Linked DNA regions of Homo sapiens. The protein of the gene in region 2 purifies or fractionates together with the protein of the main gene of each other region. This does not show direct contact. Each region holds a gene or a part of one and is shown on either strand. Other genes may lie near its edges.

Evidence for each region. The genes of interacting proteins can lie anywhere in the genome.
Region 1: the proteins of NRBP2 (region 2) and FUCA2 purify together in Homo sapiens (affinity purification with mass spectrometry; one large-scale study listed by BioGRID and IntAct). This does not show direct contact.
Region 3: the proteins of NRBP2 (region 2) and FAR1 purify together in Homo sapiens (affinity purification with mass spectrometry; one large-scale study listed by BioGRID and IntAct). This does not show direct contact.
Region 4: the proteins of NRBP2 (region 2) and NUP210 purify together in Homo sapiens (affinity purification with mass spectrometry; one large-scale study listed by BioGRID and IntAct). This does not show direct contact.

What each region holds. Positions count from the first base shown.
Region 1 is NC_000006.12:143,494,721-143,498,220, reverse strand, and holds the end of FUCA2 (plasma alpha-L-fucosidase precursor), read left to right. Parts: intron 1-723; coding exon 724-832; intron 833-2,373; coding exon 2,374-2,514; 3' UTR 2,515-3,409; downstream 3,410-3,500. UniProt on the Homo sapiens protein: Alpha-L-fucosidase is responsible for hydrolyzing the alpha-1,6-linked fucose joined to the reducing-end N-acetylglucosamine of the carbohydrate moieties of glycoproteins.
Region 2 is NC_000008.11:143,838,174-143,842,269, reverse strand, and holds the start of NRBP2 (nuclear receptor-binding protein 2), read left to right. Parts: upstream 1-1,296; 5' UTR 1,297-1,435; coding exon 1,436-1,564; intron 1,565-2,040; coding exon 2,041-2,163; intron 2,164-2,239; coding exon 2,240-2,341; intron 2,342-2,444; coding exon 2,445-2,534; intron 2,535-2,720; coding exon 2,721-2,761; intron 2,762-2,861; coding exon 2,862-2,956; intron 2,957-3,074; coding exon 3,075-3,098; intron 3,099-3,169; coding exon 3,170-3,253; intron 3,254-3,331; coding exon 3,332-3,387; intron 3,388-3,494; coding exon 3,495-3,590; intron 3,591-4,096. UniProt on the Homo sapiens protein: May regulate apoptosis of neural progenitor cells during their differentiation.
Region 3 is NC_000011.10:13,724,168-13,727,667, forward strand, and holds part of FAR1 (fatty acyl-CoA reductase 1), read left to right. Parts: intron 1-3,388; coding exon 3,389-3,500. UniProt on the Homo sapiens protein: Catalyzes the reduction of saturated and unsaturated C16 or C18 fatty acyl-CoA to fatty alcohols. It plays an essential role in the production of ether lipids/plasmalogens which synthesis requires fatty alcohols.
Region 4 is NC_000003.12:13,326,323-13,329,822, reverse strand, and holds part of NUP210 (nuclear pore membrane glycoprotein 210 precursor), read left to right. Parts: intron 1-876; coding exon 877-1,052; intron 1,053-2,385; coding exon 2,386-2,606; intron 2,607-3,500. UniProt on the Homo sapiens protein: Nucleoporin essential for nuclear pore assembly and fusion, nuclear pore spacing, as well as structural integrity.

The DNA of each region.
Region 1 (3,500 bases), on a different chromosome or scaffold from region 2:
ATTTCTTGAGTAATTGAATGAATAAATGAATGAAATCCACTTTTTTTTTTGTCCACAGCATACTTCCCTTACCTTCTTCTTTGCTCCCATTCATCCTTTAAGTCTCAGATTAAATGTTATGTTCCTGGAGAGGCTTCTTTCTGATGTTCTAATCTAAAGAGATCCTTTTGTTATAATCTCTCAATTTCCTTTTCTTTCATGGTGCTTATCAGAACTCACACTTTCATATTATTTGTGTGATTGTTTAGTGTCTGCTTTCCCCACTCTAGTCTAAGCTCCATAAGAACAAGGACTATGTGTGTTTTGTTTTTTATTGTAACTCTAACACTGAGCACAGTACTAGGCACAGAATTGACACATGCATATCTTGTCTTGTTGAATGAATGAATGAATATAAAAATTTGAATAATACATGAAAAGCCATGAAGCTCTTGCATCCTGTCCCCTTAGATCATCTCCCTCCCCTTTTCAGCTCCATGAGAGCAGTCTGATGAAGAGGAATGCTAGCTCAGGAAAATCTTTGTCTTCCAAGAACTTCCTTTTGGTCTTGGGGGAGGAAGGTGTTTTTTTATACCACCATGAGGCTATTTTTCCTTCCCTTCTATTAGTGGTGACATTGTGGAAGTATCTGTAAAATAATTCCAGATTGTTCCTGATCCATAAATAGTGAGAAACATGGGATGTAACTTGCTACTATGCTCTTTATTTTTTTCTTTTAACCAGGTACACATCCAAGCCTAAAGAAAAATTAGTCTATGCCATTTTTCTTAAATGGCCCACATCAGGACAGCTGTTCCTTGGCCATCCCAAAGCTATTCTGGGGGCAACAGAGGTAAGAGGGAATTTTACCTTATTCCTTTAAATTGCTGATTAGAACATCTTGATGCAAACATTAACTTTTAAGGGGAGCCTTATAACTGTTTCACTTATACTTCATAAAAGGAATTGTAAATGAGCTCCAGCCAAGCATTGTGGCTCACACTGTAATTCCAGCACTTTGGGAGGCTAAGGCAGGAGGATGTCTTGAGGCCAGAAGTTTGAGACTAGCCTGGGCAACATAGCAAGACCCCTGTCTACAAAAATTTTTTTTAAAGTTAGCTGAGCATGGTGGCACGCACCTGTAGTCCTAGTTACTCAGGAGGCTGAGGCAGGAGGATTGCTTGAGCCCAGTAGGTCAAGACTACAGTAAGCTATGACTGCACCACTTCAGCCTGTCTCTGAAAAAATAAAATAAAATATAATAAAATAAAATGAATTTCACCAATGACAGTGTTTGGTCAAAATCTTTGAAACTTTTTGTTTCCCAGAAAACTAAGCTGATAAAACAGCTGCAGTATCTCTATGCATATCACTGTAAAATAGACATTATTCTTCACAGTCATTTTACGTTGTTCAAGTTCACTGCATGCATCCAAAATGATTCTTCTCATAAAACTAGAATTCGGATGCTTTCCCTGACACCCCACCCCAGAACATATCTGAATACAAGATGTCATGACTCTACTATTTTATGTTTATAAAACATTTTGGAGAAAGTTAGAGATTAATCTAACTGTTGAAACCACCAGATCTGGCATTGAGTTCATTCTGATATATTTTATAACTTATTTTTTTAAATAAATTATCCCTTTGGAGGTGAACTGTCCATATGGGGGTTCTCCTTGCATCACTTTTCTGCATTTCATTTCTAATACATGTGGTTGATGAGGCAGAAAGAAGATGAGTTCAAATCTAATGTTTAATTACAGCTTAGTAGCCCAGGTATGATACTGATTATGTTTTTATTTTATCTATGTTCTTTTTGGTGCCAATTAACATTATTATTTAAAAGCTCATGGGCTTTGTTTTCATATTGATCCACCTGAGAAGCAAAGTTTTTGGTTCAAAATAACCCTAGAATATGTAGGGAACTTATTTGAATTTGCTTAGTATAGTAAGACTAAGAATATAAAACAATTACAGTAATAATTGATCAAATTTATGTATTATTGATTAGTGGAGGTTATTAGAAAATCTGGGGGAGGAACGCTGAGTAGATACTTGGGCAGACTCTGGTTTCAGAGCCACTTTCTGCTCCTGATCCTCTCTTTAGCTTTTTCTCCACTCTGAGACTCCATTCAGTCTTGAAAATTCTCCTTCCCCAACCCCTGCACACTTCTATTTCCCTCTTGAGAGTAAAATAGAAGCAAGAATATAGAGGCAAGATACATACACTCAATTGGATGAAGAGTGATTGTGAATCACTAAATAAAGGTAAAAATGAACCTCTTGTCTACAATTTTGTTTGAACTACTAATCACTCCTTCCCAATAGAAAGTGGGTGAGATAAAGAGATAAATTTGGAGACATTTGCATGTATGTTTTTAATTTCAGGTGAAACTACTGGGCCATGGACAGCCACTTAACTGGATTTCTTTGGAGCAAAATGGCATTATGGTAGAACTGCCACAGCTAACCATTCATCAGATGCCGTGTAAATGGGGCTGGGCTCTAGCCCTGACTAATGTGATCTAAAGTGCAGCAGAGTGGCTGATGCTGCAAGTTATGTCTAAGGCTAGGAACTATCAGGTGTCTATAATTGTAGCACATGGAGAAAGCAAATGTAAAACTGGATAAGAAAATTATTTTGGCAGTTCAGCCCTTTCCCTTTTTCCCACTAAATTTTTTCTTAAATTACCCATGTAACCATTTTAACTCTCCAGTGCACTTTGCCATTAAAGTCTCTTCACATTGATTTGTTTCCATGTGTGACTCAGAGGTGAGAATTTTTTCACATTATAGTAGCAAGGAATTGGTGGTATTATGGACCGAACTGAAAATTTTATGTTGAAGCCATATCCCCCATGATTATATAGTTATGCATCACTTAATATGGGGATATTTTCTGGGAAATGCATTGCTAGTCAATTTTTTTTTGTGCCAACATCATAGAGTGTATTTACAAAATCCTAGATGGCATAGCCTACTACACACCTAATGTGTATGGTATAGACTGTTGCTCCTAGGCTACAGACATATACAGCATGTTACTGAATACTGTAGGCAATAGTAACAGTGGTATTTGTATATCGAAACATATGGAAACATAGAGAAGGTACAGTAAAAATACTGTAAAATAAATGGTGCACCTGTATAGGGCACTTACCACGAATGGAGCTTACAGGACTGGAAGTTGCTCTGGGTGAGTCAGTGAGTGAATGTGAAGGCCTAGGACATTATTGAACACTGCCAGACTTTATAAATACTGTATGCTTAGGCTACACTACATTTATAAAAAAAAGTTTTTCTTTCTTCAATTATAAATTAACATAAGTGTACTGTAACTTTACAAACGTTTTAATTTTTAAAACCTTTTTGGCTCTTTTGTAATAACACTTAGCTTAAAACATAAACTCATTGTGCAAATGTACAAAAATATTTTCTTTCTTCATATTCTTATTCTATAAGCTTTTTTCTATTTTTAAAATTTTTAACTTTTTACTTTTACAGAAACACACACA
Region 2 (4,096 bases):
CAGTTTCAGGGTGGAGGATTTGAACACCCCAAACCTTTACTGCAGAGGGCCTCAGCAGGATCACCTGGCATTGGTGGAAACCACACACAAGGTGCCTGGTGACCAAGGCTGGTCAGAAAAGAGAGACCACAGGGGACGCAGCAGGGCCAGATGCACCTCTGCCAAAGAAAGAAAGAGGCGTCCCAAAGGGCCAGTGCATGGAGCTGCGCGGAGGGGAGGAGCGGAGTTCCAATTTGGGCTCCAGAGAGAGAAGGTAAAGGATGAGGACCCGCCGTGAAGGAGGGAGGAGACCACAGGAAGGCCGTGGGGGCTGTGGGCTGAAGGGGGTTTTAGGTGAGAATCGGGGACAGCCCCGGTGGTCGGCGTGGCTGGAGGGTGTGCTTAGAGCGGCCTCCGGAGGGAGAGGTCGTGTGAGCCGGGTGGGCTCCCCCCTCATGGTTCCACTGTCCCATGGGAGCCAGCCGCGGAAAGGAAATGCGCGTTTGAGGAGAAAAGAGAAAATCGCCATCCTGGAAAGTGAGAAGATGGGCTTGTGGGCGGGAGGAGGCACTGGTGGGCGGGCCAGGGAGAGATTCGTGGTCACCGATCAAAGTCAGCCTGGGTCAGCCTGCTGGTGGGCCTTTCCCCCGCCCTCGGTGCCCCTTCGACCTGTCCCTTGGGGGTCGGCCGGGGAATGAGTGCGTGGCCAGGAGAGCGGGTCCCGCTTTCGAGCCCGCGGGGTCTTCTGCAGCTGGAGGGTGCCGTGGGCTTGGGGGCCCCCAGATGCCCCGGGTCTTCCCCCAGATCCTAGGGGAGCAACCGCGAGAGAAGTGGGCGCTCCGGGCTCCAGGTGTCCGCAGGGCGGGGCCTCCGAGGGGGCGGGGATTTGGGGGCGGTTCCTCTGCGCGGGGCGGGGCCTCATAGGGGCGGGGCTTCGAGGAGGTGAGGCGGGGCCTGGGGTGGGGCTTCGCGGAGGACCCTGGGAACGGGCGGGGGCGGGGACTAAAACGGGGCGGGGATTCGCGGGGGTGGGGCGGGTCCTGGGGCGGGGCTTCGCGAAGGAGGCTTGGAGGACGAGGAGGGGACAGGGCCTGGGGAGGGGCTTCGCGGAGCAGGCCTGGGAGACGAGGAGGAAACAGGGACTGGGGCGGGGCTTCGCGGGGCGGGGCCTCCGGGGGGGCGGGGCCTGGGCGCGGCCCGGGCTCGGCAGCTCTCGGGGAAGCTCTGCTCTGGCTCCGGCAGGCACAGGCGGCTCGGGAGGTGCGCGCCGGCTCCGCCCCCGGGCCCCGCCCGTCCGCCGCGCGCCCGCGCCTCCCAATTCCCAGAGCCGGGGCTGGGGCTCTAGGCTGCCGCGGCGGCTCTAGGCTGGGCTGCTGGGCGCGAGGCCAGGGCGGGCCGGGAGAGGCTGCGCCGGCGGCGGATCGCGCAGAGGGCGGTGGCCTGGGCTGGCCGAACCATGGCGGCCCCGGAGCCGGCGCCGAGGCGGGCCCGGGAACGGGAGCGGGAGCGGGAGGACGAGAGCGAGGACGAGAGCGACATCCTGGAGGAAAGCCCGTGTGGTCGCTGGCAAAAGCGACGGGAGCAGGTGGGCGCGGGGGTTGGGGCACGGGGTGACACCGCCCTCCCAGAGCGGGAGGGGCCTGGAGGCTGCGCGGGGCGTGGGGGCGCTGGGAGAGCGCGGCGGCTGGAAACCTCTCCGCGGCCCCTCGCGGCCCGCGAATCAGCCACCCCTGGACCCCTTTGGCCTGGCGCTCGCCCTGGGACTCCCTGAGGGCCAGTCTCCTCCCAGGACCACCTCCCCATGCCTCTGGACTCAGCCGCTAGCTTCCTGGGGATCCCCCTCGACCCCCTGAAACCTGCTCCAAATCCCCTTAGCCCAGCCCTTGGATAGGAGCCCTTGGCTCCTGGGGGCAGCTACCCTCCAAGCCCCACCTTCCCGCAGAGTGGCTCAGGGCCTGCAGCCCACGCTTGGGCCCACTGGAAAGGTGTGGACAGGGACCAAATCCTCACCCACAACCCTGACACACACCAGGGCACACATAACCCTTTATTCACCCCCAGGTAAACCAAGGGAACATGCCAGGGCTTCAGAGCACCTTCCTAGCCATGGACACGGAGGAGGGGGTAGAGGTGGTGTGGAACGAGCTCCACTTCGGAGACAGGAAGGCCTTCGCGGCGCACGAGGTGAGACCGCTGCCCCCTCCTCATCCTGCTTGGGTGACCACCTGCTGACCACCCAGCGACCACCCTCCCTCCCCAGGAGAAGATCCAGACCGTGTTCGAGCAGCTGGTGCTGGTGGACCACCCGAACATCGTGAAGTTGCACAAGTACTGGCTGGATACCTCTGAGGCCTGCGCGAGGGTGAGCACGGGCAAGGCCCCGGGCAGGCAGAGACCACAGCTAGGTGGGGCGGGCATGGGGACGAACCCGCAGCTGGTGGAAATCCTGAGCTCGCACCGTGCAGGTCATCTTCATCACAGAGTACGTGTCATCAGGCAGCCTCAAGCAATTCCTCAAAAAGACCAAGAAGAACCACAAGGCCATGAACGCCCGGGTATGGGGAGCGGGCTGGGGCAGCCACGGGGACAGGACGGGGTTGGGGCAGCCTCGGGGACTGGGATGGTGAGGGGGTGCCCGGCGGCCTCGGACAGGGGCTGGGCGAGGATGCGGGGCGGGCTCCGCAGGCCCAGCCGCCTCTCCTGCGCCCACCCGACCGACGGAGTCGTGCGTCCGCCGCCAGGCCTGGAAGCGCTGGTGCACGCAGATCCTGTCTGCGCTCAGGTGAGGGCCTGGGCTGGCCTGGGCGCGGCGCCACCGAGCCCCCATCTCTCCAGAGCCTCCTGACCGGCTCCTCCTACTCTCCCCTCCCCAACGTCTGCAGCTTCCTGCACGCCTGCAGCCCCCCAATCATCCACGGGAACCTGACCAGCGACACCATCTTCATTCAGCACAACGGCCTCATCAAGATCGGCTCCGGTGCTGGCGGGGCAGGGCTGGGTGGGGGAACGGGGCAGGGGAAGGTGCCTGGAGCCAAGGGCAGAGGAGTTCTGATGCCCCAGCAGCTAACTCCACTCTTTCTCCCGCCCCTTGGCAGTGTGGCACCGAATCTTCTCCAATGGTAAGTGCGGACTTTGGGGGGACGGGGTCCTGGAGAGGTCCCCGCCCGCTCAGCTCTGCGCCCTCCCACAGCACTTCCAGATGATCTCCGAAGCCCCATCCGCGCTGAGCGAGAGGAACTTCGGAACCTGCACTTCTTCCCCCCAGAGTATGGAGGTGAGTGGTGCTGGGTCCGGGTGCCCCGTGCCTACCCTGCGCTTCTCTCCTACGTGTCCTGTGCTCTCTTCTGTTCAGAGGTGGCCGATGGGACCGCTGTGGACATCTTCTCCTTTGGGATGTGTGCGCTGGAGGTACTGCCCCCGCCCTCCACCTTGTGCTCTGCCCTCCTCCTAACTGTGCCCTGCCTGGCTCACCTGTGTGGTCCCTTCCCCATGCCTGACCTGGCTCTGTGCCCCAGATGGCTGTACTGGAAATCCAGACCAATGGGGACACCCGGGTCACAGAGGAGGCCATTGCTCGCGCCAGGCACTCGCTGAGTGACCCCAACATGCGGGTAAGCAGCTTGCCCTGCCCCTCCCCAGCTGGCTCACCGTGCTCAGCTAGGGCTAGCAAGGTGCTCCAGGCAGACCTGGGAGAACATCACAGTTTGTGCAGTTGAGGGGTATACCAGCTGACTGCACCCCTCCCAAAGAGGACCTCAGTGGGAGCACATACTGGTTCCAGGCCTGAAGGCCCTAAGGGGTCAGCACATTCTAAGGACAAGAAGGCAAGAGAGACCCTCCCTCTGTGGCTGCCATCACCATGCCCGTTTTATAAAGAAACCAAGGTTCAGAGGAGATGAGTCCTTTGCCCAAGGCTTTAGAGTGAGTGGTGGAGCCAACATCTGCACCTGGGTCTGCTTCACTCCAAGTCCTTGACTTTAAGCTTCCAGGAGGTGATGAGGCTCCAGCTTGTGGGGGGACATGGTGGGTGCCAAGCAGGCAAAAAGAGGTATGGGATGGAAGCTGCATCCACAGCCCCCTCTGCTCGGAGTCTAGACTTAACTCCATGGCCTCAGGA
Region 3 (3,500 bases), on a different chromosome or scaffold from region 2:
ATTAGCTAGCTGGCATTTATAAGCCAGGGCCCCTTTAAAATATCTGATTAGGTTTTTAGCACAACTCAGATTAATGTAGGCCTTAAATAGACAGTAGGGGCCGGGCGTGGTGGCTCACACCTGTAATCCCAGCACTTTGGGAGGCCAGTGCTGGGATAACTTGAGCTCAGGAGTTCGAGACCAGCCTGGGCAACAAAGTGAGACCCTCTCTCTACAGAAAAAAAAAAGAAAAATTAGCCAGGCGTGGTGGCGCATGCCTGTAGTCCCAACTACTTGGGAGGCTGAGGTGGGAGGATGGATTGAGCCTAGGAGGCAGAGGTTGCAGGGAGCCGAGATTGTGTCACTGCACTCCAGCCTGGGTGACAGAACGAGACTCCGCCTCAAAAAAAAAAAAAAAAAAAAGACTGTAGATTTGGGTCATTACAGTTTCTCAAGAGTTTCTTTTTTCATCCAGTGCCAGCTTCCTTTCTCTTCCCACTTACTTTTTTTATTTTCATAATGTTTTATTTAACCTAACATATAATCAAAAATATTGTTTGAACATATCAAAAACCTAAAAATTATTTAAAGGATATTACTTTCTGTTTTTTCATACTGAGCCTTCAAAACCCAGAGTGCATTTTATACTCCACTGCATGTCTCAGTTTGGACTAGCCATATTAAAAGTGCCCAAGAGGCACAGGTGGGTACAGAAACAGAAGCCTGTACTGCCTGCAGAACCATGAGCCAGTTAAACCTTTTTATCTTTACAAATTACCCATTCTCAGGTAGTTCTTTGTAGGGTTGCGAGAATGGACTAATGCACCTAATCACTACCTCCTCTGTCTTCCCAGAGGGAACAACTCTTGAATTCTAGCACTCAATATTAGTTTTACCTATTTTTGACTTTATATAAATGGTATTATACAGTATTTTTTCATTCTTCTGTTGATAGACATTTGAGTTATTTCCAGTTTCTGGCTATTAGGAATAATTATCCTATGAACATTCTTTATGTCTATATGTACACATTTGTGTAGGGTATATACCTAGAAATAGGATAGCATAGGGCATTCATATGTTCAGTTTAGCAGGTAATGGCAGTTTTCCAAAGTGGTTGTATCAGTTTACATTCCAGAGGGCAGTGTATGAGAGTTCCTGTTAATCCACATCCTCCATAACACTTGGCCTTTTAATTTTGATTTTCAATTTTAGCCACTTAGGTGATATATAGTGGTATAACAAAATGATTTTAGTATACATTACCTAGTACATAAAATGTTTATTTAAAAATAGTAAAAAAAAAAAAAAAAGTAATCCTATTGGAAAATAGATTAGAGAGATGAACAGTTTACAGAAAATGATTCCCAAGTATTTGAAAAGATACTCAGCTTTACTCAGTGGAAATGCAGACTAAAGTTAGACTGGGATATTATTTACTATTTATCAAATTTACAAAAATGCAGACTTGGACAATGTACTCTAGTGAGTTCCTGGACAAATCAGCATCCTTACACATTGCTGGTAGAACTATATGGTGTATGTTTCTCCATTCTTTTATTTTCAGTCATTTTGTATCTTATCTTTTAGATATGTCTTTTGTAAGCAGCATATAGTTAGTTGTAAGCAGCATATAGCTGTTAGTTTTTATTTTCAGTCTGACAATTTTTGACCTTTAATTGGAGAACTTAACCCCTATGTAATTCCTATCATTTTAGATTTAGTCTGACTAGTAGTGCTTTGTATTTGTCACTCTGGTTTTAAGTTCTTTTTTCTTTTTTTTTTGGCCGCCCTTTAGATTATGTTTTGAATAATTTAATATTTTCCCATCTATATGTGTTACATAGAATTATGTTCCTTTTTGGTTTAGTAGGTTACTCTAGAGATTACAATGTCCTTTAATTTAGCAAGGTCTAATATAAATTGATACTTTTATCCTTCTCTGATAGTGAAGGATCAGCATGTATCTGTTATTGTTGTTATTAGGTTGGTGCAAAAGTAATTGTGGTTTTGGCCATAATGCATGTTTTAATTCTATATATATATTAAGCCACACAAGCCAGTATTTTTATTGCAGCTTATGCAATAAATATTCATACAGATTTACCAGCGTAACTGTCCTTTTATTGCTCTTTATTTCTTCCTCCATCCCCAGACATAAATCTAGAATCATTCTCCTGCCTAAAGAATATCCTTAAGTTTACTTTCTCTAACATGGGTTTTCTGCTGATGTCAGATTGTCTCAGGTTTTATTCTCTGGAAATATCTTTATTTCACCTTTATTTTTCAAGGATATTTACACTGGCATAGAGTTTTATTTAGGACTTATTTTCATTGCGTACTTAGAAAACATCTCTGTCTTTTGGCTTTCATTGCTTCTGTTGAGAAGTCAACTTACAGTCTAATAGTTGTTCTTTTGGAGGTAATCTATAGGACCTTTTTCTGACTCTCATATGCCTAGATGTGTGTGGGGGCAGGGATGGGGGCAGTGGGAGTTGTATTTGTGTTTTGAATTGGTGACTTGGTTTCTTATTTTTGGAAAATTTCCAGGCATTGTCTTCTCAGATACTGCTTCTCTTCCTTTTTTTTTTTTTTAAATAACTGTTCTTATGGGATTCCCAATAACATACACATATACCTTCTCAAAATGTTTCCTAAGTCTTCATTTTAATGCAGAGTTACTGCATTTTTATATTTTACTGAATTTTTTATAGTAGCTTTCCCTTCCTAGAATTGGCTATTTTTAGATAAGTGATGGTATATACTGAATAATATCTTTGTAACTCCAAAAAATTATCTTATTATATGCTAAGGAGCACTGAGCAATGCATAGCCCTCTTACTTTGCCATAACATTTCTGAAGGCTTTCTTTTCTGGATTTACCTATCCTTCTCATCAAATAATCTAATTACTGTTATCCAAACTCCTTAGCCAGCTTTCATAACATATCTTGATGTCAGAGATGTTGTTTTCATAACGCATCTTGATGTCAGAAGTATTCTCCAGGAAAATTAGTCTGTTCAGTAGGCATGAACTGGAAATGTATCAGTACGTGCATAAAGTAGTGAGGAATACATAGATCTATGTGGACAATATAATTTTGTCTTTTTTTTTCTTTGTTTAGCAAAATGGTACAGGCTTTTTTCTTCTTATATTTAACCTACTTCTCTTTAAATGCTGACATTAGTTTCCAGATTATCTTCTCAAATGTTTCCATGTTTAATGGATGGTATGAACTAGGAATACAAACTTTTCAGTGACTAGCGGTAAGATTTCAGAAGTTAATTCTGTATTTAAGAATTTTGTAATTATGTCACTTGGAACTGGCCTTTAGAAAAAGTGTGAATTTCTGACTGGTTGTGAGAAAAATTAGTCAAGAAAATAATCAGTAATTTTTTTGTTAACGTAGACCTTCAATATTGATGTACGGCAGTTACATTGGGCAGAATATATAGAGAACTACTGCTTGGGAACTAAGAAGTACGTATTGAATGAAGAAATGTCTGGCCTCCCTGCAGCCA
Region 4 (3,500 bases), on a different chromosome or scaffold from region 2:
CTTACGGATGGGACCTTCTCCATCAGCATCCCTGGGTCAGGTCCTGGGGTTTTGCTGAATGGAATTTTCTTTCCATGTCTCATCATCACCACTTGCTGAACCCTGGATGACAGAAGACACACACTCACTTAAATCTTTAGACTCTGCCTGGGTCACAGACCTCTTTCATTAATTCACATCATTTTGTTTCAAAATGGGTGCCTGGCAGCAAATCCCCCGCTCTAGTTTTTGGTGAGTGAAAGTGACTGACTGCTCATCCTATTTCAACAAATATGTACTGAGCACTAGCTGTATACCAGACACTGCACCACTGAACTTTGTTAAAGAAATTCAGACCTTTGGAGCACTAGCTTTTGAGCGAGGATAGATTTTCACCTGGACTCAGAGAAACAAGGGCTGCTGTTTATGGAGCTCGGGTTCTTGGGCTCCAGAAATCCCCATTTCCCTCCTTCCCCTGGTGGCCTGCAGGGCATGCTGTGGCCTGCTTAGCGCTGCCCCTGCGATCGAGGAGGATTTCGTTTCTTTAAATGCCCCAAGAGCCAGGTTCTCTGAAGAAACTGGACATTTGCAGCCCAGGGGGCCCTCTTGCAATGTAAATAGTGATCTCATTTATTCAAGTCATGGATTGGGACACTCCTGGGTGGGTTTTCTCATAGAGAGGCCAGTCTGCTGTGTTGGGAAGTAAGAACCTTGTCACTAGGTTGGGACACTCTGGGGAGTGTGGCCTTTACTCCTCTCAGGACCCCTAAGTCCAGCCCTGCATTGTTCCTGAGGTGGATCCTGCTGGGGGCAGGTGTCCCCTCCTTGGGAGGTGGGTTTTCCTGGAGGCCAGTCCCTGGCACTGAATCCTCATCATACCTGTATGTTGTCCCTTAGGTATCCCCTGTTTCCTACCTGAGGGTTTCCATGAGCCCTGTCCTGCACACCCAGAACAAGGAGGCCCTGGTGGCCGTGCCTTTGGGAATGACCGTGACCTTCACTGTCCACTTCCACGACAACTCTGGAGATGTCTTCCATGCTCACAGTTCGGTCCTCAACTTTGCCACTAACAGGTAGGATGTGGGCAAGGGTCATTTCTCCTATGAAGTCCTGTCTGGTACCTGGTAGAGACAACTGGGGATAACACAGAAAGTCTGCTGCTGTTGAAGGAAGATGTGTATTACTTCAGTTTCCAAGAGATGTGGGCATGCTGCACCATGCAGGGCCACGAGGAAACACCACTGCCCTTGGGGGATGTAGACCAGCTCAGAGGAAGACAGACAGGCATCAGCCCCCAAAGGAGGAAACAGGGCATGGGGCAGCTCCAGGGAGTGCTCCCCGAGGCACAGGAAATTGGCCCTTCAGCTTCGGCTGCCCACAGGTCCTGCCACAGTTGTGTTTCCCTGTTGCTGAATGCATTCAAAGACAGGTGTCAGGGGTGTTGCCTTATGGAAAGAACTGGGGTTTAGAGTCAGGCCTGGTTCTAGCCCCAGCTCTGCCCTTCGTGGGCCCTGTGAGTAGGTCACCATCCAAAAATCTGTTTCCACACCTCTCACGTTGGGCAATATGGCCTAGGTTCCAGGGCTTTCCTTCAGCTGAGGGAGTGGTCATGAGGACCGCTGGCAAACCATGGCACTCCGTGTGTGCGCACATAATTGCCATCCATCAGTTTAGGGCATGTCCTGGAGGAAATGGAGCCCAGTTCTCCCAGCCCTTTGGCTGCACTGCAGGTCATTCTGGCCTTCTTGTAGCAGGAGCACCTGATAGAGACCTAGTCAGCACTCAGGGTCAGAAGGTGTGGTGGAGGCAAGGATGCAGCCATGATCCCTAACCCAAACTGTCACCCCACGCAGTCCACACTTCTGCACCAAAGCTGCCATTGCCAACATTGACTGAGCACCTGCCCTGTGGCAGGTGCCTCCCCACTGCTGACCTCATGTAATGCTTATGCCAGGCCTGCGTCACGGTCACGTGATGATCCCCATTTTTCAGAGGAGGAAAGGGGCAGAGGCTGCTTCTGCAGTCAGGTTGCATAGTAAGGGCAGCCTTCCCTTTCTGGCATGTCCAGTTCCCTGGTGGGAAGAGCGTGAGGAAGCACTCTGGATCTCTTTCCCCTCGGGGCCTCAGCTTCCTTTCTGAAATGCAGGAATGATGCTGCTGCCACTGTTTGGCTGCGAGCTGCATGTGCTTTCTGGCATGACAAGTGAGGAGGTCGAGCCTGTGCCACCTGCCTGCAGTGGTCCCTCATCTGGGGCCACTGCTTGGTAACCTCGAGTTGGGGCCACACCTGGGACCTCAGTCAGTTGAATGCTTTGCTCAGCAGAGGACATGGATTACGTTTCTCCCTTTGGGAGTTGGAAGCTTCTTTCCCGAGACTGAGAGCCCTCCTTTCTCTCCTGTGCCTAGAGACGACTTTGTGCAGATCGGGAAGGGCCCCACCAACAACACCTGCGTTGTCCGCACAGTCAGCGTGGGCCTGACACTGCTCCGTGTGTGGGACGCAGAGCACCCGGGCCTCTCGGACTTCATGCCCCTGCCTGTCCTACAGGCCATCTCCCCAGAGCTGTCTGGGGCCATGGTGGTGGGGGACGTGCTCTGTCTGGCCACTGTTCTGACCAGCCTGGAAGGTAAGATAGATCCTGAGCAAGGGAACCTGTGGAGTCACGGACGCTTGCAAAGCTGGGTGGGGGCTACCTGGGCAGGGGCTCGGCACCAGTCACGGGGGCCTACAGGCAGACCTGCAGGATACTCAGGAGCAGTGCTCCAAAACTGCTGCCCGGAGACCAGATCCAGCCTGTGCCTGTTTTCTGCAAGTAAATTTTTGTTGGCACTCAGCTGTGCCATGCATTATGTATGGTCAGTGGCTGTTGTCACCCTACCACTGCCAGATTGTGTGGTCATAGCAGAGATTGTATGGGCTGCATAGCCCAAATGCTTATGTCCGACCTTCACAGAAAGCATTTGCCAGCCCTTTTCTGGAACAGCTCTGCCAAGTCGGTGGGGGGGTCCCCTGCCCCTGTGGGGCATCCTGTCTCTGCATAGTCTCACTCAGTTCCTCTAGCCAGGAGACACACGGATCTCTGCTGCTGCTGAGGAACTGAATTCACCATTTTAGTGAATTCTGTGGGAAGTGGCCGCCATAGTGGACAGCACAGGCTGGGAGACTTAAGCAAAGAAGGACACTGGGCTAAATCAGGGGCTTCCAAATTTCAGCCATGCCCAGGTGACCTGTAGTACATCTGTGGAACACGTGTACAATTATTTACTTAGCTTTTATTTTCAAATTGTCTCCACCTTTTTTTTTAACCTTACTAAATTCATTTTAAAAGGAGATGAAATACTACCTTTAAGGAAAAACAAATATAATTTGCCATAAATAGATTATGGTTGAGTCCTTTAATTGTACTTATTATATAATGTGATTGGCTTTTAACTCAGATGTGTATGTGGTGAAAGCTCTGAGCCTCACACCTGCTGTCTGTTGCTAAAAAGGAATTGATAAGGCAACGAAGGGATGGGGA